Regions from separate parts of the Homo sapiens genome. Here all the other regions are linked to region 3. The links come from fine-mapping of genetic effects on gene expression. A gene starts in region 3. Each other region holds a variant in brackets. All regions are shown on one strand. Distances are between the middles of the regions. Region 1 overlaps RGS12 (regulator of G protein signaling 12). Region 2 holds the start of DOK7 (docking protein 7). Region 3 holds the start of RGS12 (regulator of G protein signaling 12). Region 4 overlaps RGS12 (regulator of G protein signaling 12). Region 5 overlaps RGS12 (regulator of G protein signaling 12). Region 6 overlaps HGFAC (HGF activator). Region 7 overlaps RGS12 (regulator of G protein signaling 12).

The links. PIP is the estimated chance that this variant, and not a neighbour inherited with it, causes the effect.
Region 1: its variant is fine-mapped to the expression of RGS12 in whole blood (INTERVAL, PIP 0.98).
Region 2: its variant is fine-mapped to the expression of RGS12 in cerebellar hemisphere (GTEx, PIP 0.94).
Region 4: its variant is fine-mapped to the expression of RGS12 in whole blood (TOPMed, PIP above 0.99). The same link has a PIP of 0.9 or more in testis and transverse colon.
Region 5: its variant is fine-mapped to the expression of RGS12 in whole blood (TOPMed, PIP above 0.99).
Region 6: its variant is fine-mapped to the expression of RGS12 in whole blood (INTERVAL, PIP 0.98).
Region 7: its variant is fine-mapped to the expression of RGS12 in blood mononuclear cells (TOPMed, PIP above 0.99).

What each region holds. Positions count from the first base shown.
Region 1 is chr4:3,335,793-3,339,854 of GRCh38, reverse strand. The region is part of intron 2 of RGS12 (regulator of G protein signaling 12); the gene reads right to left. Among named protein-coding and RNA genes, the nearest start is that of RGS12, 45 kb to the right of the region's middle. The variant A/G (reference allele first, on the strand shown) is at 1,821.
Region 2 is chr4:3,461,289-3,465,350 of GRCh38, reverse strand. DOK7 (docking protein 7) reads right to left here and starts at 2,045. Exons shown (of 7, transcript NM_173660.5): 1 at 1,922-2,045; 2 at 1,800-1,845. The coding sequence starts at 1,975. RefSeq lists an enhancer at 2,420-3,267. The variant CG/G (reference allele first, on the strand shown) is at 2,329.
Region 3 is chr4:3,291,135-3,295,196 of GRCh38, reverse strand. It overlaps RGS12 (regulator of G protein signaling 12), which reads right to left and starts at 2,176. Exons shown (of 18, transcript NM_001394154.1): 1 at 2,098-2,176. RefSeq lists silencers at 1-17, 2,041-2,090, 2,101-2,580, 2,761-2,870 and an enhancer at 802-1,387.
Region 4 is chr4:3,312,277-3,316,338 of GRCh38, reverse strand. It overlaps RGS12 (regulator of G protein signaling 12), which reads right to left. Exons shown (of 18, transcript NM_001394154.1): 2 at 1-269. The coding sequence starts at 168. It also overlaps the pseudogene LOC100286945. Among named protein-coding and RNA genes, the nearest start is that of RGS12, 21 kb to the right of the region's middle. The variant G/A (reference allele first, on the strand shown) is at 1,707.
Region 5 is chr4:3,401,135-3,405,196 of GRCh38, reverse strand. The region is part of intron 4 of RGS12 (regulator of G protein signaling 12); the gene reads right to left. Among named protein-coding and RNA genes, the nearest start is that of HGFAC, 39 kb to the left of the region's middle. The variant G/A (reference allele first, on the strand shown) is at 1,759.
Region 6 is chr4:3,442,074-3,446,135 of GRCh38, reverse strand. It overlaps HGFAC (HGF activator), which reads right to left. Exons shown (of 14, transcript NM_001528.4): 1 at 4,018-4,062; 2 at 3,224-3,404; 3 at 2,990-3,086; 4 at 2,716-2,795; 5 at 1,975-2,097; 6 at 1,694-1,825; 7 at 1,403-1,513; 8 at 1,143-1,317; 9 at 786-871; 10 at 1-94. Among named protein-coding and RNA genes, the nearest start is that of HGFAC, 2.1 kb to the right of the region's middle. RefSeq lists a silencer at 2,589-2,638. The variant C/A (reference allele first, on the strand shown) is at 1,772.
Region 7 is chr4:3,386,919-3,390,980 of GRCh38, reverse strand. All of the region lies in intron 4 of RGS12 (regulator of G protein signaling 12), which reads right to left. Among named protein-coding and RNA genes, the nearest start is that of HGFAC, 53 kb to the left of the region's middle. RefSeq lists enhancers at 1,912-2,061, 2,752-3,021. The variant G/T (reference allele first, on the strand shown) is at 1,808.

The DNA.
Region 1 (4,062 bases), 45 kb before region 3:
ATTAGTGTGCCTGCGAAAAACAAATCCATCACAAAGATGTGCAAATCACAGCCATGCACACAGGCCATCACAGCCTCACTCAAAACACACTGTGAGGACATCTGCCCAGCAACCGCCCGCCCACCTCCAGCCTGGTATCATCCTTGGTGCTGATCCTTGTGGCAAGGATAATTATCTCAAAACAATCATGTGATCCTCATTTTTCCTTTAAAAGCCTTTGTCTTCTTTGGCCTCCCCAGCTATGCACTGTAGACCATGGCAAGTATCTGCCTACTCCAATGCCCTGCTCCCAGATAAACATCATTTCTTTCAGAGAGCCTCTCTCTGTTATTTAGATGGACAGTGATAAGAGAGTTTAATTTTTTTTTTCTTTTGAGACAGGATCTCACTCTGTCGCCCAGGCCGGAGGGAGAGGTATGATCATGGCTCACAGCAGCCGCGACCTCCCAGGCTCAAGTGATCCTCCCACCTCAGCCTCCTGAGTAGCTGGGACCACAGGCATGTGCCAACAGGCCCGGCTAATGTTTGTATTTTTTGTAGAGACTGGGTCTTGCTATGTTGCCCAGGCTGAGCTGAAACTCCTGGGCTCAAGCAATCACTTACCTCAGCATCCCAAAGTGCTGAGATTACAGGTGTGAGCCACCACACCTGGCAGCCCTGACCACGCCCCAGGTGAGCGGCCCTTCCACAGTCAGCCTTGCAACTTGTTCCCAGCACAGGCAAAAGAAAGGATGTCTGACGCCTGCCCACACGTGGATGCACTGTGCACTTTGGAGATGTAAAGGAGAAAGGAAAAGTCTAACAAGCAGACAGAAAACAATTCTTGCAAAGCACTAAATCAACTCATGGAACGAGGGCCAGTAACAGATGTGACAACTTCCACAGCAGGGAGAGACCAGCGTTTACTCGTGTTTCTCAAATTGACAAAGTTTTGTAAATTAATAAATTCAGATCATCACCGCCGATTTAGCACCCCTGCTGGTGTGACATAATCTTGACTCTTCCCCAAAGAGTACTAAACAGGGAAAACAACAATAAAAATGGCCTAAAAGACCACTTGGTTCAAACTCCAGCTTTTAAGTTGAGAAGACTCCTCACGACTGTCTGAGAAGACAGGTGGCCCCCAGGGCACCATCTCCACCTCCCAGCCTTCGGCCACCACACCCAGCACTCAAGGGCACTGAGTGGAGCAGACACCGCCCGCCCGCCAACCACAGAGGCCGGTCACCCTGGCCCCCAGGCATCCAGGATGCAGTGAGCCAGCCTGAGCCAGCCGGCTTCAGGGAGAACCAAGGGCCTCAGGCCAATCAACCTGCCTGGCTACAGGGTCCCAAGGGACGGCCGGTCAACCGGCATTACTACCACACACAGGCCCAGAAAAGCATCGGGTTCCCTCCAAAGTAAAACCGCTAGAAATGAGGGGAGGGGAAGGGTAGAACCTTAACCCCTGCTCAGGTACCAAATTTCTTGGCCACTCTCAGTGCCAACAATGAATTGCTGGGCACAGTGGCTCACGCCTGTAATCCCAACTCTTTGGGAGGCCGAGGCGGGTGGACCACCTGAGGTTGGGAGTTTGAGACCAGCCTGACCAACATGGAGAAACCCTGTCTCTACTAAAAATACAAAATTAGCCAGGCATGGTGGCACATGCCTGTAATCCCAGCTACTCAGAAGGCTGAGGCAGGAGAATCGCTTGAACCTGGGAGGCAGAGGTTGCCGTGAGCTGAGTTCACACCACTGCACTCCAGCCTGAGCAACAAGAGCAAAACTCTGTCTAAAACAAAACAGTGAATCATCCCATGCGACCATCAGTTCGGAGC[A/G]AAGAATCATTTTGGCGTAAGAACCATTCCAACGCCTCAATCCACAGATGAGAACTGGGAAGTCAGGGAAGCAAGTCCGTGCAAGGTCACACAGCTCATGGCTGACCTGAGACAACACCCAGCTCCTGCTGTACTACTGCACTGCCGTTTTTTATTAAACTTTCAAAATATTTATTCAATCTGATTTTAAAATCCAGATAACACAAAATTTACCAAGTTAGCTGGCTCAGTAGCATTAGGTGTGTTCGTACTGTTATGCAAGCATCACCACCGTCCTCCAGAATTTTTCATCTTCCCAGAACGAAGCTCTGCCCCCATTTAACACGCACTCTCCATTCCCCTCCCCCAGGCCCCCTCTCCCGCTTTCTGTCTTTATGAATTTGACTGCTCTAGGAATCCCACATAAGTGGAATTAGATAGTGTGTGTCCTTCTGTGACTGGCTGATTTTGCTGAGCATGGTGTCCTCAAGGGTCATCCATGTTGTAGCCTTCCTCTTCAAGGCTGAATAATATTCCGCGGTATGGATGGACCACACTGTGTTTATCCGTCACCTGATGATGGACATCTGGGTGGCTTCTGCCTTTCAGCTATTGCAAATAATACTGCTATGAACATGTGTATAAAGAGCATCTCCTCAAGACCTTGATTTCAATTCTTTGGGTATATACGTAGAAGTAGGACTGTGGGCCATGTGGTCATTGTACTGTTGGTTTTTTGAGGAGCCACCACACTGTTTCCCATGGTGGGTGCGGCACTTGGCATTCCCAGCAGTGCGCCAGGACTCCAACTCCTCCGCATCCTGCCCAACACGGGTCATTTTTCTCTCTTGTGATGGTGGTGGCAGTTGTTTTATAGTAGCCATCCCAAGGAGTGTAAGGTGCTGACTCACTGTGTGTTTAGTTGGCGCTGGCCTAATAATTGATGATGTTGGGCATCTTTCCACGTGCCCATTGACTACTTGTGTATCTTCTTTGGAGAAACGTCTATTCAAGTCCTTTGCTCATTTTTTAATTTTTCTTTTTCTTCATTTTTTTTTCTACTTCACAGTTTCACACTGGATCTTTGCCCATTTTTTTTTATTTTAATTTCTCTTTATTTTCTTTTCTACTTCACAGAATTCACACTGGACTTTTGCCCATTTTTTAACTGGGTTGTTTGTTCCTGTTGCTGAGTTATAGGAGTTCTCTATAGACTCTGCATATTAACTGCATATCAGATACATGGCTTGCAAATGTTTTCTCCCATTCTGTGGGTTGCCTTCATTCTGTGGGTTGCGTTTTTTAATGTGTAGAGTTTTTACATTTGATGTAATGCAATTTATGTATTTTTTTCTTTCGTTACCCACACTGCTAGAACTAAAAATTCCTAACCAATTCGGTCTAAATAAACACTAGTCCCTAAGCCCCAGTGGGGCAAGGACCATGTCCTGGTCACGACTACACCCCCACCCCTCCCACAGTGCTTGGTGCATACCAAGTACTCAATGAATACTTACTGAACAAATAGACTGTACACAAGAGAGTATGTAGCTTAAAAGAGAGACCAGATCATCCGAAGGTATTTCCAAAAAGAGGCAATATAGAGACTTACGAGGAGTCAGATTTCTAGCTCACATCTTCGCATCTCCTGCTATATTCTTCAGGGTTCACTCAGGAGACAGAAACCACCCGTAGTTCTAACAGAGAGTACTATGTAGAGAAGGGGTAGCTTGGTATTGAGGGATGGAAAGGCAGAGGGACTCTGAGATGCCATGGAGTAGCAACCTCGGGAAGCCGCTGCCACCCCAGGGCTGGGAAAATGCAGGGAAGCAGAAGGAATTACTCCAACTTGGCAGCTCACAGGAAAACAGCCGGTGGAGCTGGGGCCCAGACCACCGAGGGACAGGACATGGGGCTCCAGCCCTTGGGTTTTGTTTGTTTGTTTGTTTGCCTGCTTGTTTGTTGAGACAGCGTTTCACTCTGTCACCCAGGCTGGAGTCCAGTGGTGCGATCTGGGCTCACTGCAACCTCCACCTCCCAGATTCAAGCAATTCTCCTGCCTCAGTCTCCCAAGTAGCGGGGACTACAGGCACGCACCACCATGCCCGGATAATTTTTTTGTATTTTTAGTAGAGACGGGGTTTCACTATGTTGGCCAGGCTGGTCTCGAACTCCTGACCTCAAATGATCGGCCTGCCTTGGCCTCCCAAAGTGCTGGGATTACAGGTATGAGCCACCACGCCCGGCCCAGTTTTTTTCGAAT
Region 2 (4,062 bases), 170 kb before region 3:
TGGGTGAAGGCAAAGGGGGCAGCATCTAGGGAGGCTTATGAGGGGCCAGGGGAAGAGGCATCAGGGCCTCTGAGCGGAGAGGAGGTGCCAGGCTGGCCTGGTCAGGGTGGGGAGGTGGGCGTGAGAACTCCGCTCTGTCCCATCCCCTCATCTGACCGACCTCTGGGCAACCCCACAGGGTGTCAGTTTCAACCCTGGGCTGCTGGAGTGACCAACACAGAAAGCAGGTGTCCAAAGCAATGGGTCCCAGGCCAGTGAGTCAGTGGGTGCTAGGGACACCTGGCCTCAAGGCTTGGAATGAACATCCACCCAGAGGGGGCATGGCACCTTCTACTACCCCACATCACCTCCCACGCCAGCCCCAGAAGGCTGCAGATCTCAACTGCGCAGGATACGGGATAACCCAGCAGACGCTCGGGAGCCACCATGTTCACCTACAGACTCACAGATTGTCCCACCTGGGGGACCCATTGCAAACTCCTGTCACTCCACTCAGGCACTCACCGGCCGGGGGAGCACACCCTCTTGAGGCTGGCAGGCCCTGCCTCCTGGGACTGTCTGATGCAGAAAGAAAATCCCTCCAACAGGGACAAAGACTTCTCCCCCGACACTCCTCTTTGGGGGCTGCTGTCCCGGGTGCCTTCCTGGGATGCGGCCTCTCTGGAGGGTCTGCACCGGCTCCAGCCCAGCACCATCCACCAAGCATCACCTGCCCCACCACGGCCCCGACCCAGCCACAGCTGACTAAAGCCTGTCATCCGCCCCAGCCTGGCAGGGCCTCTCACTCTGCCCAGACCCCATCCCTTCCTATACCAGGTCCCCTGCAGCCCCGGAGGACAAAGACGCCCTCCCAGGCTCTGTCGGTGCCCCCACAGCTCCAGGCAGGAGGTCTGGGCACGGAGGGCTGAGTGGAGAAGTGACCAGCGTGCAGTCCAGGCCCTGCAAGGGGAGGCGGAGGCAGGCAGGAAGTGCTTTCCTCCAGGACCACCTGAGGCCCTGCAGAGGGGACGCAGGAGGGATCCCTGCCCCACACCCTCCCTGGGAGTCACAGACACCCGTCCTGGAGGGTGCTCTGGCAGCCCCCTGGCGTACAGCCCCCCATGCACACAGGCCGAGCATCCCACCCAGACCCGGGCCTGGCCGGCTCTGCCGCACCTGTCCTCTGGAGCAGCTGCAGGCCCGGCTCAGCCCTCCCTACAGGCCCAGCGCTGCAGGCGGCCTGGGCTGCCAGACCTGGGGGCTCCATGCTGACCCTCCCCAAGCTGGGGTGCTGGCTCAGGGCGGGGACTGGGGGGGGACCCCTGCCTCCTCCCAGAGGACTGTTCCCCCAGCAATGTGGCAGTCACTCTGCCCTGCCCTACCGCAGCCCAGCCTCTCGTCTGCCTGGGAGGGGTCCAGGGTCAGCGCTAACCCACGCAGCACCCCTGGAGGCTGGGTTCGGGGGCCCTGCTCTGAGCGTTTCCACAAGCACAGCTCAACCCTCAGGTATGTGGGGCTTTGCTTCTGGGGGGCCCCTTGCTGCTCTGCTGGGGGGCTCAGGGCCTGCGTCCCCTCCGCCTACAGGGCCACCAGGCAGCCCCTCGGGCCTCAGTCTGCCCTGCTGGAAAGAGGGTTCTTCCGTCCAGGGCCCCCACCTGCGCTCCCAGGGGCGCCGGGGGGTCCGGGTCCGCACGGGGCTCTCGGGTTTCCCGGCGGGGTGACAGCGGCGGCGATTTTGGGCAAGCTGGCATTACTGCCCCGGGCCTCGGTAACCCGTGTCGCTACCCCCGCGCCCCCCGTCCCCCGCCCGCCCCGCTCACCTGCCACGGGCGACGGCTTCCGCAGCACCAGCCACCTACTCTTCCACTGCGGGGACAGGGGGGAGCGTGAGCCGCCGCCCGCGCCCGCGCCCCCCCCCCCCGCGCCCCCGACGCGCCCCGACCTTCTTGCCGTCCCGCAGCTTGACCTGGCCCTCCACCAGCGCCGCCTCGGTCATCTTCTGTCATGGTTCCGCGCCGCCGCGCTCGCCCCGGCGCCCCAGCCCAGGGTCACTTTCAAAATAGCTCGCAGGGCCCTGGGCTGGGCCAGGAGGGCGGGCCCGCGGGCAGGGCGGCGACACCGGCGACTCCAGGGCCGGCGCGGGCGGGGCTCCTTCTCCTGCGGGCGGCTCCCCCACCCCCACGGGCCCCTCTGGCCCCACCGTCCCGCGGCGGCCACTGGAGCCGCCCGCCCTCTGGAGCAAGCGCACCATCTGGGCTCAGACGCTCAGACCAGCGCCTGGCGGGGCGGGGGTCGGGCGGGGACTTCTTTTTCAAAAAGCAGAGACAACCACCTAGCAGACATCGGCCC[CG/G]CTCTGGGCACTGCTCCCAACTTTAAAGTTGGTCTTCAAACAATCCGGCTTCCCAGACTGGCATCTGCCCCTACCCCAGGGGTCACTAGACACCCGGACAACAGACTGGCCACAGGCAGCCCAGGCCTAGGATGCTCTCACATCCCCAGGCTTCCCCCACACTGAGGTGACCCCTCCCCAGGCAGGCAGTAGGGGTCGGGGAGCCCCTGGCAGCCTCTGTCTCTTCCTCCATTTCTGTTCCCATTAAAAGCCTGCAGGGACCCCAGTGCAGGTGGGCGGGTCCAGGACCCACAGTGCCGCCTCAGGGCCCCAGGTCTCCACCTCTTCTGCCCCCATCCCAGGCAAGAGCAGGCCCTGGTTAGGCCAGCCGGCTCCGATGGGCAGAGGAGCTGCCTGCTTTGTAAAGGACCTGCCAGCAGCCCTCCCAGCTGGGTGGACTTTGCGCTTCTGGACTCCCCCTCCTTGACCCTGTGGCTCCAGTCCAGCTGTCCCCAAGCTCTGGCCTGGGCATTAGATGTCACATCCAGGTTCTTCTGCAGAGAGGCCATGTGCTTTGGGGGACCTGGCAGGTCCGTGCCTTGGGTGTCAGCCCCATCCGAGAGACGGCCTCCACCACCCTGGGGTTGGGGACACCCAGCAGATACGGGAACAGCAGTGGGGAGGGGCGATGGCACCCTAGAAGATAAGCACCTGGACAAACAGCAAAGCTCCGTCCACATGCCCTACCCTAGACCCCATCCTCACGGGGCTGACGGTTCTCGGGGGAGAAGAAGGAAGGGGTAGACAGTGTCCCGTTAGGGAGGAGACGTCTTCATTTCATCCCATCCAGACCCTAGGCTGGGCTCTGTCTGCCTCGCACTGAGGAGCAAATGGAATCAGGGCAGCGTGAGGCCTCACAGCCAGGACTGAGCCACATCGGCTGACCTCAGAGCAGGGCTCAGAGGCATCGGGAGCCCTGGGCGCCCCTCCCCACTGCCCCTGTGATCCAAGAGACAGGTCTCCGGTGGGCCACAAGGGTTGGCTTTGGTGCTTCGGTGATGTCTTGTCAGGGCCTCATGCAAGGCGGGGGACACCAGGCCCAGGAAGCAGAATTTTGCATCCCCCACCCACCCCCGCAGTCACCTGTGCAGCCACCAGCCGCCTTCCGCAGAACAGTTGCTGGGTCACAGAGCCCCATTCATGCTCCCCACACATCCCAGGCCCCCAAGGGGCTGGCCCAGGACAGCCGGTGCGGAGGCGGGGGCCGTTGGGGCTGTAGCCACAGACACATCCGCTGCCCTGGGCGCCTGGCACTTGCTTATCCCTACAGGGAGAGGCAGGGCCCTGCTGCATTCCTGAGTGCTGGCCCGGGCCCAGGCTCCTGCCATGCCTGGCAGCTGCACCTGCTCCCACACAGCCTGGAACACACAGGATGCCGGAGGGTAGACAACTCCCTTCCCTGCTCCATGCGGCTCCAGGGCTGCTGAAAGGTGGAGGAAGCTTCCTGCAGGAGGAGGAGGTGGCCTGGCTGCCACTCCCAGACTGGCCGAGAGCGCTGTGACCCTGGGCAAGCTCCTGCCCCGCTCCGTGCCTCAGAAGTTATAGCCAGAAGTTTCCCCAGAAGTTATAGCCAGGGTTGCTGGTTGCAAATGGAGAAATAGGCTGGCCACTGAGTAGGAAGGGGTTGATTGGAAGCAAATCAGGTCTCCAAGAACCAAGGGGAAGGCTGGAGAGCTGGTAGGCAGTGAAAACAG
Region 3 (4,062 bases):
GCAGCCAGGCCGGCTGGGTCACCAGCTGTCACCTCTGGGCCCTCACCACCTCCAGGACCTCACTGAGTCCCAGCTCCCAGCGCCACAGGTCTCCTCGGCCTGGCCACCCCTTCTTCCCCGAGACCCTCATCCTAAACAGGGCAGAAAGGGAGCCAGCCCTTGACCCTGGATTCCCTCCTCTTTGCAGTGCCTGTCGAGTGCCTCCCTCCCACCTCCTGACCCTCCCCAGGACATGCCCTCAGGCCGCGCCACCCCTGCCCTCTCCTGAGCACTCCACAGGTCAGTACTGTACCTCCAGTCCACGTGAGGGGCCTTTCCTCCGCCCTTGTCTTTGTCAACCTCCCTGAGACCTCCGGTCACCACTGCCCTGTCGCTCCTCCCTCTGCTCTGCCAGTCACAGAGGCATCCGCATCATTGCAGTTACCAGGGCTAGAACTGTAAGCCTGTCTGATGGCAGGTTCCAGCCTCAGGAGGTCTCAGAGATAAGGCTGGACTTGCAGTTTTAAGAAAAAGACCCAGACAGGGGTGCACCAACTTGTGCAGGCTCAGCCACCCCACTGCCCTTGCCTGAGCCCCTGCCCTCAGCCAACATGGCCTCCCCCACCTGCAGAGCATCCAGCTGAGGCACCACGCAGGGCCCGGGCACCGGATACCCATCATCTCAAGTCCCCAAAAGCACTGGCCACGATGGACCTTTTTATATCGCTTTTTCAGGGGAAGAAACTTCGCACTGTGACAATTACTTTCTAAAGTGAAATATAAACTGGTTCTCCCTTACTCAGAATTGCTCTGCCCTCCCCACGTCGCCTTCTCTAGGGGAAGGCCAGCAGGACTCCACCCCAGCAGCCCTTGCTGCCCAAAGCCGCCTCTCTGCCCTCCTTGGTAGTCTCCTTGCTGTGAATGGTGGGGCTGCTGCCTTGCCTGGGAAGGCCCCCCAGCGCCCCTTCTGTGCAGGCCTTGCCGGCCATCCTGCACGTCCCTGTGGCCTCAGAAGGGCCCTGCACAGGACGGCATGGACCACGCTGAGGACTTCAGACAAAGACACTCTTAGCCCTTGCAGCAGCTCCAAAGACAGGTCCAATGAGGAAACTCAGGCACAGAGAAGGTGGTCACCTGCCCAGGGACACATTCCCAGCAAGTGACCAAGCAGGTGAGAGGCCAGGTGGTCCTCTCTGTCCACACTCCACGGCTCTGGGCCCCCTCTGTGTTCACCCTCCACTGTCTACACTCCATGGCTCTGGGCCCCTTCTCTGTCTGCACGGCTATGAGACTCTGTCTACACTCCACAGCTATGGGTCCCCTCTCTGTCTACACTAGATGGCTCTGGGCCCTCTCTCTGTCTACACTCCACGGCTCTGGGCCCCCTCTCGGTCTACACTCCACGGCTCTGGGCCCCCTCTCTGTCCACACTCCACAGCTCTGGGCCCCCTCTCTGTCTACACTCCACTGTTTATACTCCATGGCTCTGGGCGCCCTTTCTGTCTACACTCCACAGCTCTGGGTCCCCTCTCTGTCCCCATTCCACAGCTTTGGGCCCCTCTCTGTCTACACCGCACGGCTCTGGGACCCCTCTGTCTACACTGCACAATCGCGGCACCGCGGCTGAGGCGACCCCAGGTCGCTGCAGTGCGTCTGGAGTTCGGGTCTCGGAAGGCAGCTTCTGCCCTAACAAAGCGGCCGCTCGTGGAGTCCGACGAGGGAACCCTCCCAGCGCTCCCGGGCGCATCTCGCCCGCGGGACCCCCTGCCCGGCGCCGCCCCCGCGGGTCCCGCCAAGGGCCCGGGCGGGCCTCACAGCGCGGGGCCCCAGGAGGCCGCGCACCCGCCCGGCCGGAGGCCCCACAGGCCCGCGCCCCGCGCCGCCCGCCCCCGCCCCCGCCCCGCCCCGCCCCGCGCCGGGCCCGGGACCAGGAGCCTGAGTCAGGCCGGCGAACAAAAGGCAGGGCGGGCGGGCGGCGACCCCGAGGGGACGGGCGCCGCGCAGGGCTGGCCGGGATCGGCCGGGAGGCGGAGGGCGCGGGCGCGCGCCCCGGAGACGAAAGAAAGAGCGGAGGCGGCGCGCCCTGCCCCCGCCCCGGCCCCGGCCCCGCACACCTACCGGGCCGCGCCGCTCGCTCCCGCTCCGGGCGCTTCGGCCCGCGCCACCGCCCGCGCGCGCAACGGTCGCCTCGGCAGCCACCGCCCCCCGGGGTCGAGGCGAGGGCGGGGCCGAGGCCGGAGGAGGGGCGGGGACGGAGAGGGGCGGGGCGAACCTGGTGAGGCGGGGCCAAGGGGGTGGGGTTGGGGCGGGGCGATGCGGGGGCGGGGCACGGGGCGGGGCGAGGGCCTTCGCGTCGGGACAGCGTGGTAACGGGACTGCCAGGGAAGCAGGGATGAGAAGAAGCGAGGGACGGGGCCTCCACGGCCGGGGGCGGGACTTCCGTTGGGGGCGCGGCGGCGCTGGTGCGCACGGTGTGTACCCGCACTGGCCCGGCCCTGGTGCTGGGAGCGACTGCGTTCCCGCAAGCTGGTTTTCTCTGCCTCCGCTGGCCCGGGACACCCTGCGAAGGGCAGGTCGGTGTGGCCGGGAGGAGCCGCCCCTGCCTGGGCTGTCTCTGTCCTTCGCCGTCGGTGTCCGAGGAAGTCCCGCTCCCGTTGGGTCTCTGTGCCCGGGAAACCTGGCTGTGGGGAGTCAGGCCCCGGCGCCCTGGCTTTTCGGCTGGGCAGATGCCCGGAGCTGGCGGCAGCTTCGGGGGCGGCGTGAGTTCCCGCGGCGAAGCCACGGGGACAGCCAGGAAAGGCCGTTCCCTCCGGGCCCCGGGACGCCCGCGAAGGCGGCGCGGTGACTGCGGCGTCCAGCGGGTCTGCCCCTCCCGGAGCGCGGGCAGCAGCGAGGGCGGGACCGGAGGCACCGCTGGCACGAGAGGAGGAGCTGCCCGGCCCCGGCCTGCGCCTCTGGCCCTGTCCCAGCCGCCGCCTTCACCCTTTAGGCCGGAGTTCCTTCCTCGCCCTCTTCGTGTCTTCCTTCCCCGGCGCTGGGTCTCCCTGCCCCTTCCTTCCTGCCTTCCCCTCATTCTCTCCCGCCGCGTTTTTCCCTCGAGACGCATCCGTCGCTGCTGTTCACGCTCCAGCCCTGCCGCCCGCCCAGGGACTCGGCCCCTCTCGGGTTTGCTTCTTTCCTGTCACCTGCCTTGATGGGCTCAAAACGCTTCCCCTCCGTCCCCGCCACCGCCCCATGGTTTCTTGGCAGCTCTCCATCATCTAGTCTTGTGTGATTAGTTTGGATCCCAGGAGGAAACCAATGGCATTCTCAGTGGGACAATTAATTAAGAGTCCAGCAGGGTTCCCGCTGGCAGAGGCGCGGTCCGGGAGCCGGGAAGCCACAGGGCGGTGCTGAATTGGGACAGGTAACAGCAGGGAGGGAACTGTTTTCACCTGCAGGGCTGAAGGAGCGCGGCCAGAGCGGTTACAGGAAGCCAGACAAAGAGAGAGAGATACTTAACAGGAGCTGCGACCTATGGCCAAGGGACACAGCCAGCCCTTGATGACCCAGCAGAGAGAGCCAGGGAAGAGGCCAGGCGCGGTGACTCGTGCCAGTAATCCCAGCACTTTGAGAGGCTGAGGCGGACAGATCGCCGGAGCTCAGGAGTTCGAGACCACCCTGGGCAAGATGGCAAAACCCCATCTCTACTAAAATACAAAAAATTAGCCAAGCGTGGTGGCACGCGCCTATAGTCGAAGCTAGTTGGGAGGCAGAGTCAGGAGAATCACTTGAGCCCCGGAGGCGGAGGTTGCTGTGAGCCGAGATTGTGCCACTGCACTCCAGCCTAGGTGACAGAGTGAAACTCCATCTCAAAAAAAAAAAAAAAAGAGCCAGGAAAGAAACTGCCCCCACCCTGGCCCCCCCAAAACTGTGGACCTTCTTGGCTCCTGCCTATGCGCAGATGGTGGAATCTTCCAGAGCAGCGCCAAGCCAGAAGGAAGCAGGCCGCAGAGCTCAGCCTCCTGAGGCTCCAGGGCAGGGACAAGTGGCCCTGAGTGAGAGATGGGGAAACACCACCTGCAGGTCTCTTCTTTCCCTTTG
Region 4 (4,062 bases), 21 kb before region 3:
CACGAAATCCGCAGGGCTCCCTCTCATGACGCAGCTGAGCACACAGGGTGCCTGTCCCGAAAGCGTGAATCCGTAGCCGGCCCTCCCCCGGGCAACCTCCACACTCCGCACCCTTGGGGGCGACGGCCCAGGCAATGGGCGTTTGGAGGCCTCCCCAGCTCTAAACATTCTGATGAGCTTCCAAGACCAAGAGCACGTCTCATTGTTCCCTTGGAGCCATATTTCAAGGAATGCTTGATGCTACCATGTTTGCTTCTTCAAACAGTGCCCTAAGAAAGAAAAACGAACAGCTCATTATTAAAGAGCCCATCTTTCTCCACCACTCACTGGTATTAGCTAAACACAAAAAGATAATTCATAATAAAAACCACCACAGAAAGAGCCTCTAAGTGTCTATAGATAATAAATCTTCAAGTCAGGCTAAGAAACTTCCTTTCGGAGTAGAAAATGTCTCCCACAACTGCTACCTTGTTACCACACAAGTTCCTGCCAGGCCCACCTGCCACGGGTGTGAGGATGCAGGACTGCTTCCCAGCACTGCTTCCACACCCTGTTTGGATGGAAAGAGCCCCTTGCTACTCAAAGTGTGGTCCGTGGACTGGCAGCCCGTCTGAAAGGCAGACTCTCGGGCTCCACACAGAAGAAACACACCCAAACCCACGTTTCACAGGATGGCAGAGTCCAAGCGTGAGAAGCAAGGCCTGCTACAGGCTTCAGGTTCAAAGGCACCTGCAGAACACTGAGTCTAACCCCTTAGTTGATCATAAATCCCCTGACATAGAGTTTTCCCTCAGGAGAGGGGTCACCTAATATTCCATGACCCTCCCACATTAATTTATTTTGAATATACTGTGTGGGGGAAAACGTATTAGCCTGAAACAACCTCGATCAATACTGCAGAGGCCACTCAACAGGCTAGATAAAAACCACCACCTAAAAAAGCAGAAATGTCATATTAACTCAATTCTTCCAGGGGGTATAAAAGTATTGGTTGTCATTGAGAACAAACTTGTCAGTGGTCCGCGGATCACCCCCAGGCCAGTGATTCCCTAGGATTCCCAGGACTTGGCACAAAGGTGCTCTCACAGCTGAGATTCATTACAGCGAAAGGATTCCACACAAAATCAGCAAGGGCAGAGGTCCATGGGGCGATGTCCCAAAGAAACCAGGCTTGAGCTTCCAGAATCCTCTCCCAGCGGGGTCACGCAGGACGCACTTAACTCCCTACACAGTGAGCCGTGACAACGCATGTGCAGTGTCGTCACCAGGGAAGCCCACTAGAGACTCGGTGCCAGGGTTTTTACTGGGGGCTGGGCACATGGGCACCCTCTGCCTGCTTCGTGCCCAGACTCTGGACTCCCAGAAGAAAGGAAGGTTCTCAGCACAAACCTTGTTCCCCACACAAGCAGCTAAGCACAGGGAGCCCCTCTTCATTGAGGGTGGTGGGCACCGTCCTGACACCAGCGGGGGGCCAGCCTTGCACACAGGCCTCTCAGGATGGTCTCGGGCCTGCTGTGTAGTCTCTTCTGCAAGACTCTTTAAAGATCACTTTAAAAAGCAATACAGTAAGTGATTGTGTTGTGAAGACACAAAATAGAATAGAGGGTATGTTTTTTTAAAGAAATAATTGTTTTAGGCCAGGTGCGGTGGCTCACGCCTATAATCCCAGCGCTTTGGGAGGCCGAGGCAGGTGGACCACGAGGTCA[G/A]GAGATCAAGACCATCCTGGCTAACACGGTGAAACCTTGTCTCTACCAAAAATACAAAAAAAATTAGCTGGGCATGGTGGCGGACGCCCGTAGTCCCAGCTACTCGGGAGGCTGAGGCAGGAGAATGGCATGAACTCGGGAGGTGGAGCTTGCAGTGAGCCGAGATCGTGCCACTGCACTCCAGCCTGGGTGACAAAGCGAGACTCTGTCTCAAAAAATAAAATAAAATAAAATAAATAATTGTTTTAAAGTTAATAACTTCTAATAGAAAAGATTTTTGTGTCTTGGGATAAAGTTTCCAGCAATAGGATCATAAACAGATTTGAAGTAATTTACACACATAAAAGCTACAGAACTAGATAGAGTGGAAAGGCTATTACTAGGTGACTCCAAAAGTGGCTTCAGTGATGACAAAACACGGACACAGAACATGCGTACTTAGTAAAATTATGTTTTGATGGAAAAGAGTAAAAAATGAATATAAATTACATTACTCAATATCTAAGTAGTACTGTATTAATAATTTAAATATTAGGACTGGGCATTTAACTATTTAAAATCATTAAAAAATGAATTTAAAAAATAAAATAATTAAAATTATTTTATAATTTTTTAATAATTAAAAATTATTAAAAATCATCATTAAAAAATAAATAAATAAATGTAAAAGTTGGCCAAGAAACACGTCTGGGGATCGATCTTCTTAAGAGGTGTGACAGGCTGGCTGATGGCCCCTGATACACCCACATCCTCACTCCCAAGCTTTTGGATGGCTCCTCCCATCCACGTGACCACGTGAAGGCTCTAGAGATGGGGAGAGTGTGGGGTGCGCCTGTGTGAGCCTGGGGTCAGAGCCAGAGGGGACGGCCACATGAGGAAGGATGCGGAGACTGCAGGGATTCAAGGATGGGTCTCGAGCCCAGGCAGACGGGCAGGCGGTCACCTCCAGAAGCCGGAAAGGTGAAGGAAGCAGACTTAAAGTCACCAGAGGAACCAGCTCTGCCACACCTGCCATCAGCCAGGTCACACTGACTGCAGACACGAGGCCCCCGAAAACGCAGGAGAATGAATGTGTGTTGTCTTAAGCCCCCCAGTTTGCAGTAATTTCTTTCAGCAACCCCAGGAAACAAATACAAGGGGGAATCACTTTGTCACGGGTGAGGGGAGAGGGAAAGCAGGACATGCGTGAAACGGTCTCACTAAAGCACGCTCAGAAAAGCATCTGTCACACAACAAAGGTGCTGCTGTTCCCGGCAAGTGCCAGCTATCACTGTGAACAGCCCCAGGACAGCAGGTCATGAAGCCTTGATGGCTTCCTCGGGGAACAGAACACCTCTCGGCTTTCTCTTCCAAACAGGAATAGATGCTGCCTCAATGAAAGACATGACTTCCCAGTTTATTCGCACCATCCGCCTCACACTGTGTGACATAATGATGGACAATGTCTTCTATGCAGTCCACCCAATTTTTCTACTAGACTCTTACTGTCATGGGCCTCTGCTTATTAAAAAGAAATGGTTTGTAACTCATGTAAGTAATATCTTATTATCTATAATCACGTTTCTTTGTTTTTATTTTTTAGAGACAGGGTCTCACTCCATTGCCCAGACTGGAGTGCAGTGGCACAGTCATTGCTCGGTGCAGCCTCAAACTCACTCCTGGGCTCAAGCCATACCAAGCACACCCCCATACTCGGCTAACTATTTTTTTTTTTTTGGAGAAAACTGTATTGAGATATTTTAAGTCACGTATCTAATATAAAACCAGTTTGCATTGTTTCAGCTTGTCTTCCTTGGAACCTGTGGTTGCCCTTCACCTCCTTCTGGCAATTTAAATTGCTCTGATTTCGGCAGAATATTCCCCGGACATCAGGACCATCTCCACATTCATCCCAGTCTTTGAGACAGCTCCCGGAGATCAGCTTCCTGGTCAAGCACAAGAATCTCAGCAGCACCGTGATCTTCCTCTCTCTCCTGGCCAGGTAAGACCCCGACTTTCAGGTGGTGGTTCCTCTTGCTGAGGCTGCTCATCACTGGGCTCAAGCACAGGCCCAGTTAGCTCAGGAGGCTGCACATACCGTCTTGGTCTAAGCCTACATGCTGATCTTCCTTGCCAACTCATATTTCAAACGGCTGCTTCTCAGTAGTGGGTAAAGAGTCCAGAACGCAGGAACGCAACCCTCACACCCTCACAGGTCCACAGTGTTCACCACGTGGGCAAAGGGGCCAAGGAGAAGACACCCAGTGAACCTTGGCTAATGTTTTAATTTTTCTGTAGACGAGGTCTCACTATGTTGCCCAGACTAGTCTCAAACTTCTGACCTCAAGCAATCCTCCCACCTTGGCCTCCCAAAATA
Region 5 (4,062 bases), 110 kb before region 3:
TGTCTTGCTTCGCATCAAGCCTGAGTCCACAACTTTAGCACCCTCTGATGATTTCCTGACGCACTGTTCAGCTGTATTCTGCTCTAAGAGCCCCCCTCCTGTTACTACAAAGCCATTTATCTGTGTTAGTGTGGACTTGCTGGGTTTTTATTTTAGTCCATGGCTCATACCCCATGAACACCTTTCTTTTTTGGAAGCTCAGTCCCTCCTTCAGGCTGGCACCTGTATCCTGCTCATGTGTCCTCATCATGCCTTAAGCACTGCCTTATTTTCTGGTGTGAAAAAAAATAAAAGCGAAGCTCCAGCTTCATCCTGTGTTTTTCCCACTCCAGCCCAGGAATTAGTCTTTGCTCCACAGAGCCTGACACCCTCTACAGAAAAGAGGTATAGACACCAAAATCTGGACATGCAGGTGCTCACTGCTACTGGGGTTTCCCTGCCTCCAGCCCCACCCTGGTGGACAGAGCTGGGAAATGTGGATGCACACGCACACACTGCTATGTCTATCTCTCCATCCACACATCCCTCTATTGAAAGCCATCGGTTCATACTGACGCCTCCAATGCCAACCCAACACCCTGAGCACATCCTCACCTCCTCTTCCATCTCTGTAACTCCCTGCTGGCAGTGGGGAACTGGCTCCCATGAGCTCTGATGTGTTTGTCCCTGTGCTCAAGCCTGGCACAAACAGAAAGCAGCTTAAGAACGACTGACCCACACCCCTGCACAGACAGACCTACTTACTCGCCCAGCTTAAAATCCTACCACCTACTGTTTAAAGCCTGCACTTGATCACCAAAGTGATTTTGTTTCCCTTTCGAAACAGCCAGGCCTCGTGAATACCTACCATGCAGTCACTACAGCGGCAAAATTCACTTTCACAGAAAATCCCCATGTGGAGACTTGTGCCTCAGGACAATCCTTCTGTCTCTGGCTGCCATGATGTGATTGATCACATGGCCTTGAGCATGTCTGTGCCTTGGTTTTCTCATGGAAGAGAACTAATCTTTGCAAGGCTTGGGGCAAGTGTAGACGAAGGAGCTTACACCATATATCTAAATGCTGGAAAATTGTAACAAAGGCTAACACATTGTTAAATAAGCTATATGCCATCTCGCTACCCTCCAACAACCTGGAAGGCCAGGTTTAATTTAGAATTCTGGAACCTAAGTTCTGCACAGAAGTGTGGTAGTGCAGGGAGGGCTGCCACAGCCCATAGCCCCCTCCTTACTCCCTTAGCTTCACCCCAGCCTCATACTGGGGTGTGAAATTTTGTATCCACATTTTGTCACATCACCCCACGTCAATAGCCCCCTTTGGGTCTCAGAGTATCTATTTCATTCCCCAGTTATCAACTGGAAGATGCTTTTCAAACTTAAAGCAATGAGGCCTTTCTTCCCAGAGAAATCTTACGGGAATCCCTGTGAGGGGCTGGCTTGCGGAGGAAGGAGGACATGTCGGGCAAGAACAGGTAGGGTAGGCTCAGGCCCCCTCTGCTTTAAGCAGCACAGGCTGCGGAGGCCGGCCCAGCTCTGCATCTCAACAAAAGCCTGCCACAACAGCAGAGCCTGCTGAGGGTTAGAAAACAGGGATCTGGAATAGCACCTCCTCAGAAAAGTGTTTACATGCTATCGATCTCAGTCAATCAGCCCATTTTACAGATGAAGCTGCTGAGGTCCAAAACATTCCATGACCTGCCTGGGCTGACATCAGTGACTATGCTGGGCCCAGACTCCACATTCTCCATGGTGAGGTCCC[G/A]GTATCCCCAGCAGCACTTTCTGGGCTGACCGTGAGTCTGGCCCCCACAGCCAGACCTCACAGCCCTGCAGAGGAGCTGCCACGCCTGGCAGGTCTCACGGACCCCTCGAGATATAGTGTACTTCCCGTTACCTCAGAGGGCCAGAAGAAATGTGGGCCCAAACAGGAGAAATCTGAATTCTGGGTCTTTCCTGGAGTCAGTACTAGAAACGTGTGATTTATAACTATTCTGGCAGAGCCCAGCAAAACAAACTCTCTACGTCTGAAGTGACACCAAGTCCTTCTGGAGAGTGAAATGCCAACAGGCGGGGGTGAAATGCTGCCAGAGCCCATGAGGCCATGCGAGTGAGCAGAGCGGCTCCTGCGAAGGTCAGTGTGGGAAGTGTTAGGCGATGTGCAAAGACGAGTGAATTATGTCACTTGTCACTCTGAATTTTTAGGATTCTAGGCTTAGAGCTACCAACTATGACCATAAGTAGTTGGTGAGGTCACATCTGACCACAGGGAGCCCTCAGGATGCTCCAAGAAAAGACACAGAACATTTTTCAAAGATCAACCCTAACTGACTTCATTTATTATGCTTACTTGAGCTGAAAAAACTTCACATTACTCATTTAGTGGTTAATTCCTTTGTGAAACTGACTTACTTCATTTTGATGAATAAAATATTTATACTTTGTAAAGACATTCTTCTTCTATTCTTGTGCCAGTGGCCACACAGGAAGTTCAGACCTTCTGGTTGTGGCTTGGCCCCACCAGAGGACACCACCCAACGCAGAGGACGCCACCCAACGCAGAGGACGCCACCCAATGCAGAAGCCCAGGGGCCCCAAATGCTGACCTCATGAGGAAGACTCAAAAGTGGTCCTAAACCCTTCCCTCAAGCCAAGGTGGGGCCACCCACACAGAAAACTGAAGACACAGTCCTGGGGACCTGTGCTTCCACTGAAAGAGTCCAGGGATAGAGAGGACGAAAGGGCACCCTACCCAGCAGGACTGAGGCCAGAGGACCAGGCTTCAGGGAAGGAGGAAGGGCCTGAGTGTGTAAAAGCATAAAGGATTTGTGACATTTAGAGGCCACCCCATAAGCCAAAAAGAGGTAACACAAGACACGGAAAAAAGGCCTACTCTACACATCAGGGGCAGATGGTGGATGCTCTCAGCCATGGTGGCCATATAAATGGTATTTGCTGGGACTGTGATGACTTCACATAATTTTAATAATAAATATAATATGTTAGATGTAAAACTAAGCATAATGCAATGTTTGTACCTTTTATATAACTTCTGATATCAAACAATCAAACTTAAAAAGTCATTTGTCCTAAACCGGGCTTCCAAAAATCTGGTCACCATGCTGGTCCCATGTCCACTGGCCCAGGGAGGTAGGCAGCGCTCACGGGCTCCAGGGCCTGCTGCCTGTGGTCTGGCCCCTTCCCAGGGGTGGAGCTGGGGCTCAGGGGGCCACCTCTGGAGACTGCTTCTCCTTGCTGACTGTGGAGAGGCTCTGCAAAGCCCTGGACTTTTACGCAGCAAGAGACGAGGCTAAGGCAGGGCTCTCCTCCATGGGGAACCCAGCCATTCTGCCCATTCTCTTCCTAAAACCGGGTGGGCAAGTTTAAGGTGAGCATGCGGTAAATGAGGCCACCGCCTCCTTCTCACGATTCACAGGTGCTGACGGGATGTCTGCTCTATGGCAAGCTGTATTCTAGGAGGTGGATCCTCAGCCTGGTGTTACCTAGTCCACAGTGTGCCGGTTCACGGCGTGGTTCCAGAGTCACACTGTTTGGATCTGACTCAGAGCTCCGCTCCTTCCTCACTGGGCAAGACACTCCCCCCGCTGTAAAACCGCAGTAAAAACCGTGCTCGGACTTCACAGGGACAGCGTGAGAACTCCCCTCCTCACCAAGTAACTTACGAGTTACTTAACTTTCCTATAAAGCTGGGATAATAACTATGCGTCTATGCTGACATGAAAGGAACACTGTGACAAACAGTGCGAGGCACATCCTAGGCATCCAATAACATCGTCTGACTAAGTGGATTGCTTGTCCCAAGTAACAGCTAATGAGAGACTACAGGCTGAAAGGGATATAAACTGACATTATAATGCATAATTCATAAAATATTTTCTTCCTTGAAAAAATGTAAATATAAATCTAAAATCCCTATTGGGCTTATCACCTAAAATTCTGGTCCTATACCCCCTCCCCAAAGATAATCCATCTTATTAATTTGGTGTTGGTCTGTCGAATTTTTAAAGCATTTTTACCAACATACATATGCTCCCATGGAAATCATGTG
Region 6 (4,062 bases), 150 kb before region 3:
TTGTGCCTCCTGCCGCAGGCCTGGCGCCCCGGGGAGGCTGGCTCAGGCAGGGTCGCCAGGAGATCCGGTGACAGTTGGACTCTGGTGAGGGATTCTGGGAGCAAAGGTCACCGGGTCACACCCCTGGGGTTCACAGGGCCAGCCCCCTTCCACACACAGGCCCTACCCGGCAGGAGGCGCTGCAGAGGGCCATGGCCGGACCCCCTGTCCACGCTGCTCAGGCCCTGGCGCCCACTCACCTCTGCCCTCAGTTTCCAAATCTGTAGAATGGGGTTTGATGCCCGATCCCGAGGCTCTGTGAGGGCCAGAGGGGCTGGACACACGGAGGCCTTTGTGGCCCCCTCAGCAGCCCGGAACCCCACAGCCAGCCCCAGCACAGTCAGAGACCCCCACATGAGAGCCCCGGGCTGGCCCCGCCGGGGTCCTAGGGAGCCGGGGGGCCTCTCCCCAGGGCAGGAAGCAGGTGGCCTCTGGGGGGCCTGCACGCTGCCCTCCCTGCACCTCCCTGAAAGGCTTCTGCGGCCATCCTGGGCATGGTCCAGGCTGGGCAGGTGCCACCCCGAGGCCGTCGCCTGGTGACCAGCCCCCTGCAGCGGGCTGCTTCCCCACTGTGACCCCAGTACCGACCCACTGCGTGACCTTGGACCAGCCTGATCCCGTGAGCTCCAGTTTCCCCATTTGTCAGAGATGCAGTAGCCAGGTGTGCGGAGGGGCTAGGAGGATCACGGGGAAAACTGCTGTGACCTCGGTGGGGCCCAAGGCAGCACCCCCCGCCAGCCGCGCACCGCAGGCCTCCAGGCGGCAGTACTCCCAGGAGAGCGCGCTGTCCTTCACCACGTAGCACCAGGGCCTCTCGTCATTGTCCGGATTCCTGCGGTGCATAAGTGGGGGCTGGCAGGGAGTCACACTGCCCCTCGAAGAGGGCATGGGGAGGGGGCATCGGAACCCCCAGCAGGGCGGTTCCCCGCACCTGGAGCAGTGGGAAGAGAGTGGCCCTCCCTCGGGCAGCCTCCCAGGCAGAGGTTCCGGGGCCTGTCTGGACGGAGCTGGCCCCGCCTGGGTCCTAGGGAGCCGGGGGGCCTCTCCCCAGGACAAATCCTGCCTGCCCCGCATGCGGCGGCCTGGAGCGGCGTGGTGCTGACCGGCAGTAGGCATGGGGGCCCAGGCCCAGCAGGGCCGCGGCGCCCACGGAGTCCACGTGCAGCTCCTGGTAGAGCAGATCGGAGTTCCAGGCCAGGCAGCTGAGGCCCGAGGCTGAGGTGCTGGCCACGCCACGGTACCCAGTGCCGTTCCCCAAGAAGCAGCGCTCATCAGGCTCTGCGGGCAGAGGGGCAGTGAGGCCGGCCCACGGTGGGTCCACCCGGCACTGCCCCAGGGCACCCCGGGGGGCTGACCCACTCACCGATGTTGCAGAGCCGTCCAGCGAAGCCTGGTGGGCAGGCACACACGGTGGTCCCGGTGGCCACGATCAGGTGGCAGGTGCCCCCGTTCAGGCAAGGGCTGCTCAGACAAGCTGGGGGCAGGGCCGAGGAGCTGGGCCAGGGGCCGCGCAGTGCCCCACGACAGCGGAGTCGGGGCCGGGGTCCACCCCTTGTCCCTTGTTTCTGGGTGACCTCAGGCCATTCCTCCCACTCGGGTGTGGACAGGGACACCCGTCAGGGGTCAGTGGCACGGCTCACACCCCGTGGCGCACCTGTATGTCGGGTGCCTTCGCACCAGGTCCGGCCCCCGAAGCACTCGCACTGTTCCACGTGGCCCTGGCGCACGCGGG[C/A]CCAGCGGTCGCCCCCCTCCAGGTACTCGTAGCGGGTCTCATCAAAGCATTTCTCTGAGGGGTGCACAGTAAGCCCTCACACCCTGCCACCTGCTGTCCCCGTGCAGGGCCCCTGCCCTGCACTCGGGAGCCACCTGTTCTCCCATCCTCCGGGGACTTGCTCCGGCCCCTGGACCCCTGCGGACCTCCGAGGCCCAGCTCACCTGTGCCGCAGTCCTTGCCGGTGAAGGCCCGGGGGCAGCTGCAGTGATAGGACTGGGGGTCCTGGGTATTGGAGCAGGAGCCTCCATTGAGGCAGGGGCCGGAGGCACAGGGATCCAGGGCAGCTGGGGACATGCGGGAGGGGGTGTGAGGGGCGGACTGGGAGGCTCAGGGTCCCTCTGTGACATTCTCTGCTTGCTAAGGCGTCCATCAGGCCCCAGTGAGGGGCTCTGAGAGCAAAGGGGCCCTCTCTACGCCCCTCGGGGTGCAAGGTCCCTGGGAGGGGCACAGACCTCCCCTTCCTCCCAGCGTCCCCCACTCAACACCTGGGCCACTGGCCCAGCTGTGCACGTGGCTTCCTGGAAGCCTGACACCCACACTGTCAGGCAGCAGACCCCTCCCATGTGTCCCAGGACCCATGTGAGCAGGGCGGCTGGCACCGCACCCCACAGACCCTGCCCACCTGTCCCCTGCCTGGGGCACGCCTGTGTGGCTGCAGGGCCCGGCCTCACCACCAGGCGGCGCCTTGGCCCCAGCGATGGCCGCGCAGCCACCATGAGACGCAGGTCCCACCTGGGAGAGGCTCTGGCCCTAAGTGGCACCCACCGGGGTTAATCCCAGAGCTCCTCTTCTGCTCCCCTCCAGCCAGGACCCCTGCCCGGGTCCGCCCCATCCTCCCCTTGGCCCTTCTGGCCTGGCCCAGTGCCCCCTGCCCGCCCCAGGCTACCCAACCCAGCACCCACCTGGGCCCCCTGGAGGCGGGGTGGCCTCCACACAGTAGCCCCAGGCCCTGTCCCGGTCGTAGTTGTGAGTTGTGGCACACCTGGGGGGCGACACCTGCGTGCATGGGGGTCCCAGGCAGAGGCCCCCCACCCCACCCCACCACCCTGGAGGGTCTCTGGGTTCACTGGGTCCGCCTGCTGCGTGGTGAGCGCCTACTGTGTGCCCGGCTCCCAGAAAAGCAGGCAGCGTGGGGCAGGTGACCCCAGCTCGGGTGCCCCGGCTGCCCGGACCCACCACTTCCTGTGTGCACTGCCCTCCGAAGTGCAGGCATGCAGCATGCGGCCCCCGTAGCGGAAGGGGAACCTGCAGGGCCTCCCGTCCTCGGTGAGTGCTGTGGGGAGGGGGTGGCAGGGTCAGGGCTCCCTCGAGGGGCACCCGAGCCCCTCAGGACCTCCAGCCGCAGCCATGCTCCTCCCACCCAGCCCTAAGGTGAAGCACGACACCTCCTCCCAGGCCCACCTGACCCACCTTGGGCCTGGGGGCTACTGCTCGAGGGAACTGCCCTGGGCGGGGGCGGGAGCCCCCCACTTTGGGGTCCCTCTGCCTCTGGAGCACTTGTTGCTGGGGTCTCAGAGGTCACAGAGGTCACCAGGATAGTGGGGATCGCAGGGGTCGCTGTGGCATTAGGTTCTGGGGACTCCGTACGGTTCTAGGAGGAGCAGAAAGGGTGTCAGTGTGGGACAGACCCTCACACTCAGGTCCTGCCGGGCAGGAGGTCACAGCCCTGAGCCTGTTTCCATACTGGGGCCCCCAGATCTCGGAGCAGGTTCCAGGAGGACACACGACATTCCTGAGGCCTCAGCCAGGCCCTGACACCTTCCCCGCCCTCGGCCCCTAGTTAACACCTGCTCAGGGTCACTGCCCAGGCCCAGGCACTGCTACCCACCAAGCTTAAACCCTGACGTCAGTTTTTGGTGATGGGAGCAGCTAGGAGGCCCTGGGAGGTTCCCCCAACCTCACGCATCCAGACCCAACAGAGGTCCAGAGAGAGGGGGCAGCCCCCAGACCCATAGGGGCCCAGGCCAGGCCGCACAGGGATGACAGCCCCCAGGTGGGGCTCCGTGAGCCCAGGCCCCAGCCTCCAAGGCCAGTCCAGCACCCACCTGCCCTGTGAGGGCCAGCTTTCAACGTAAGCCCCCTGCTCGGACCCCCGCCCCCTCAAATCCCCACGCTCTGTGGCGACCCTCCCTCTGGCCTCCTCCCAAGGACCCCAAGTAGCCACTGGGAACCTCTGGTCGCACTGCGACAAGGTCAGTGCTCACCCCGCCAGGCTGGGGCTGGAACCCCCGTGGCAGCAGCAGCAGCAG
Region 7 (4,062 bases), 96 kb before region 3:
AAGTACTGATGGTTCTACTCTCAAGCTTTTCCCTTTCTCTTTCAAAATTGTATAGAATACAAATTTTGGCATTTGCCAAAAATATCAACAATTATACTTTATATTTTAAAGAGGAATGCAGTTTAAAGTCCCCCAAGTTAATCCGGCAATTACGGTAACCCTCCCCCATCAGGCAGCCGTTTGTGACAGCTCCCCAGGCCTCAGTGCCTGTTCGCTAACAAGGACCGGCGAGATGAAGACACAAGGCTAGGAGAGAGAAAGTGACTTGCCCCAAGAGATCGGCCTGTCAGCTGTGGAGCTGCAGGTGGAGCCCGAATCTTCCGCCATGGCCAGGTCTGAGCTCCAAAGGCCCGCGTGTTGGGTGAAGGCACTGGAAGAGCCTGGCAGGCGCGCAGAGCAGCCCAGGAGGAGGCGGCGGCAGTGGGTCCACCCCGCAACACCAGTCACACAGGAGTTTCTGCTTCTGTGCTTGTGTGTGCTTTTTGAGAAGGTTTCACGACTAAAAGGAAAATCACTGAAAGCCACTGTCCCCGCCCAAGCCTCGCCCTGACGCTCTGGCTGATGTCTGCTGAACACCCGATCATTCACTCAACAGACAGCTCTCGTGCCAGCCGCTGTGCCGGGTGCCGGGACAACTCTGACCTGCCACGTGGAGGTCACACCAGCTGGGGGGACAAAAGCACCAACACAGATGAATAATTAAAATGATGGAAGCTGCCCCTAGCACGGGCAGGAAATTGACAGTGGCCATCGCTCAGGATGGGGGCAGGTGGTCAGGAAGGGAAGAGGGAAACCGCATGTGCCTGAGGCACCATTGGAGACCAGGGTGGGACGCAGGATGGTTGGGGGAACAGGGGCTCTGAGCTGGTGGAGGGGTCCAGTGCAGGGGCTGGGCAGATCACTGCTGCTGCTGTGGGGGCAACCACCAGCGTTCAGGAGAAGGGAGCGGGAGGATGGCTGCAGAGACAGGGCCAAGACTGAGGTCTGCATGGAGGACGAGTAGGGGGGCAGCTGAGTGGACAGAGTGGGGTCAGGGCAGAGCTGAGGCACAAGGCATGAGGAGGACATGGGGATGGAGGACTGCGACTAGTACGTGTCGGGGGTCCCCAGGGTGAGGCTGCGAGAACGGAGTGTTTGAGAAGCAGCTGGAGCACCGGGGTCATGTATGTGGGGTGTCATGTGGACCTGCCACCGTCCCCCAAAGCCAGAGCCGCACAGTTCCCCGGCTTTCCTGCTGGCACAGACGCCGTACGCAGGAGGAGGTGGGCGCTCTGGGAGCTCCCCGATAGTCTCCACACCCCGACTTCAGAAGGTGAGGTGGTCACAGCGGGAACATCCACCTGTGGAGGCTGCAGTGGGTGAGGGGATTCTGGCAGGCCTCTTGGCACAGAGCTTGACCAACGGAGGAAGCCACAAGAACGGGCTTCTGTGCGGCCGCGGCTCCAGCTCTGTGCAGAGCCAGACCAGGAGAGGTGAGAGGTTCCTTTTTCCAGGAGCAACCGGGCATCTTCCTTTTCTCATTTCTTCACAACGCCCCATCTCCCTCCAGCTCGACCTCACACTTCTGTCTGAATAACTTCCCACAAGGCAGACCATTCCCCTGCTAAGCCTCTCTATAATGCTAGAATGTGCTTCCTTCTCTCCAGCTGGAATCTGCTCCCTGCCCCCACCCACAGCCCTGCCGTGCCCCCCAGAGACCAGCTGTAACCCTTTTTCCCGAGGGCACTCTTTGGCTACAAACGGGTGGCCATTATCAGCCCCTTTCTTCTGAAAAAGTGAAAAAACACACTCCAACTTGACAAAGATT[G/T]CCAAAATAGCATAGTCCAACTTCCTTAAAACCGAGCCACAAAACTAAAACTCTCCAGCGAGAGCCTAAGCTATAAAAGCACGATACGCGTCACAGAATGAAACCGTGGCATGAACACGAACTCTCTCACTGGCACGGCTCGTTGAACACAAAATATTTCTAAGTGAGTGATCTATTAATCACCAAAACTAGACAGGATGACCAGGCAGAGACAGCCCAGCTGAGCAGATTGCTCCCCAAGCCAACTCCTCAGTCCCTCCTTGGAACTCGGGGAGCATTTTTCCCATAAAAACACTGGGGTGCTGGAGTTCCCAGGCCCACCTCAGTGCACTGAGTCTCCCACTGACCACAGCCTATAAAAAGATCTCTGTGTGGAAACACAGCCAGAGTTTCCCTGGGACCACCCCCCCACCCCGACCCCGCCCAGGCTCCTGTCACTGCCGTGGAGGGCAGGGTGTGGGGGAGGGGGCCTCTTTCTGCCTGAGGCACCAGAAGGGGCAGCAGGGGCTGCAGGCGCTGGAGGGTCCAGGGCTGGAGCGGGGGACTCTCCAGGACCATGGGGCTGGGCGTGTGGAGGCCCAGGGCTGGGGGGTGGGTGGGAGCCAGGGTGGAGGGGCCTCTCAGCCAGGGCTTTCCCCTGCAGGCCTGAGTCTGGCCATCTCACCTGCAGACTACTGTGAGCTGCTGGATCTCCCCACTCTGCCTCGGTGCCCTACATCTAACAACGGCAGAATGTGACACCGATCTAGAGCTCATGTGCACATTAAACAAGATAACTGGCTCTTTTTACTCTTATAAGCAAAGAAACTGAAGATGGAAAAATAACAAAAACACAAAAAGGAACTAAATAAACATCCAGCCCGCCCACTGCGGTTCCTGAAATTCAGGGTGTGCTGATGACTGTCTCCTCCCTCCCGTCTCCTCCTCCCTCCCGTCTCCTCCTCCCTCCCGTCTCCTCCTCCCTCCCGTCTCCTCCTCTGTGACTGGGGCTCTCCATGGAGGGACGGGCCTGTCCCAGTGGCCCCAGGGTCTGACACTGGGAAAAGAAGGAGGAGCAGGGGGTGGAAAGCCCTAGCACCAGGGGATCTCTGCGTGGCCAGGATACACTTCCTCAGAGGGACACACAGAGCCAGCGTGGCGAGGAGCCAGGACACACTTCCTCAGAGGGACACACAGAGCCAGCACGGCGAGGAGCTAGAGACTTCCCACCCTTGGGAGGTGCAGGTTTTTAAACAACTGTAAAATGGACACATAACACAACTCTGGGTTCCTGCATCTATTGCTGACAGAAGCAATCTTTTGGAGGCAAATAAAACTTATTATATATGGTGAAACTAAACATATTAGGCAAATCTTTCATGTATAAATTGCCTGCAAGAAATGAATGTCTTCTGCCAGAAAGGAGAAGTGAGAACACGGCAGAAAGAGAAAGCATGAACAGATCATTCAAAACACCGGTCACTTTATCCTGGATTTGGTTCCGGGTCCTGTTTCTTTTCATTAAGGAAGTTTATCCTCCCTCCACCTTAAGACTGATTAAATGACATGATTTTCATTGTACATAAAATAGGAAATAGAATTCCTTTTATTCTACAAAATACATCTCCACCACACGAGTGTCGGGATCCCTCTGGTCTCGGCTTCAGGTGCCAGTGCGTGTGTAACCCAAGATATGCTCCTCCTCCTACAGAGCCGCTGGCCCACAAGGGCTCTGAGCTCTGTCTGCCCACCTGGGGTCCTCCTGGCCTTCCTACAGAGTGGCTGGCCTGCGAGGGCTCTGAGCTCTGTCTGCCTACCTGGGGACAGCAGCCCTTTCCGAGGCCGAGGACTGAGGCCAGCAGCTGCAGGACCACAGAAAGTGAGAGAACGACATTTGGTTTCTCTTTAACGCACAAATACAGTGGCACCTCAAACCCACCGGCCCCTGGGCAGCTTCTGCAGCACAGCCTGTGCCTCAGCCCATCCCTGGCCCACAGCGATGCCAGGTGCACCTATTCCAGCTCTCAGGGACAGAAGTGGGGACAAAAGCGTGAGGTGACGATGAAACCCGAGAGCCTGCGGACTGTCAGGAGTGTTAGAAGAAAAGAGGAATATTTCGGAGGAACTCTCCTTACTTTGGAGAGGTTTTTTTAAATCATTGAACCAAAATGATAAGGATGACATCAGAGAAATCTTCAGTGAAATAAGACATTCCTGCCTACTTCCTTTTCAATCAGTCCATGAAAAGAATCCCTGTGCACAAAATTCTTTAAACA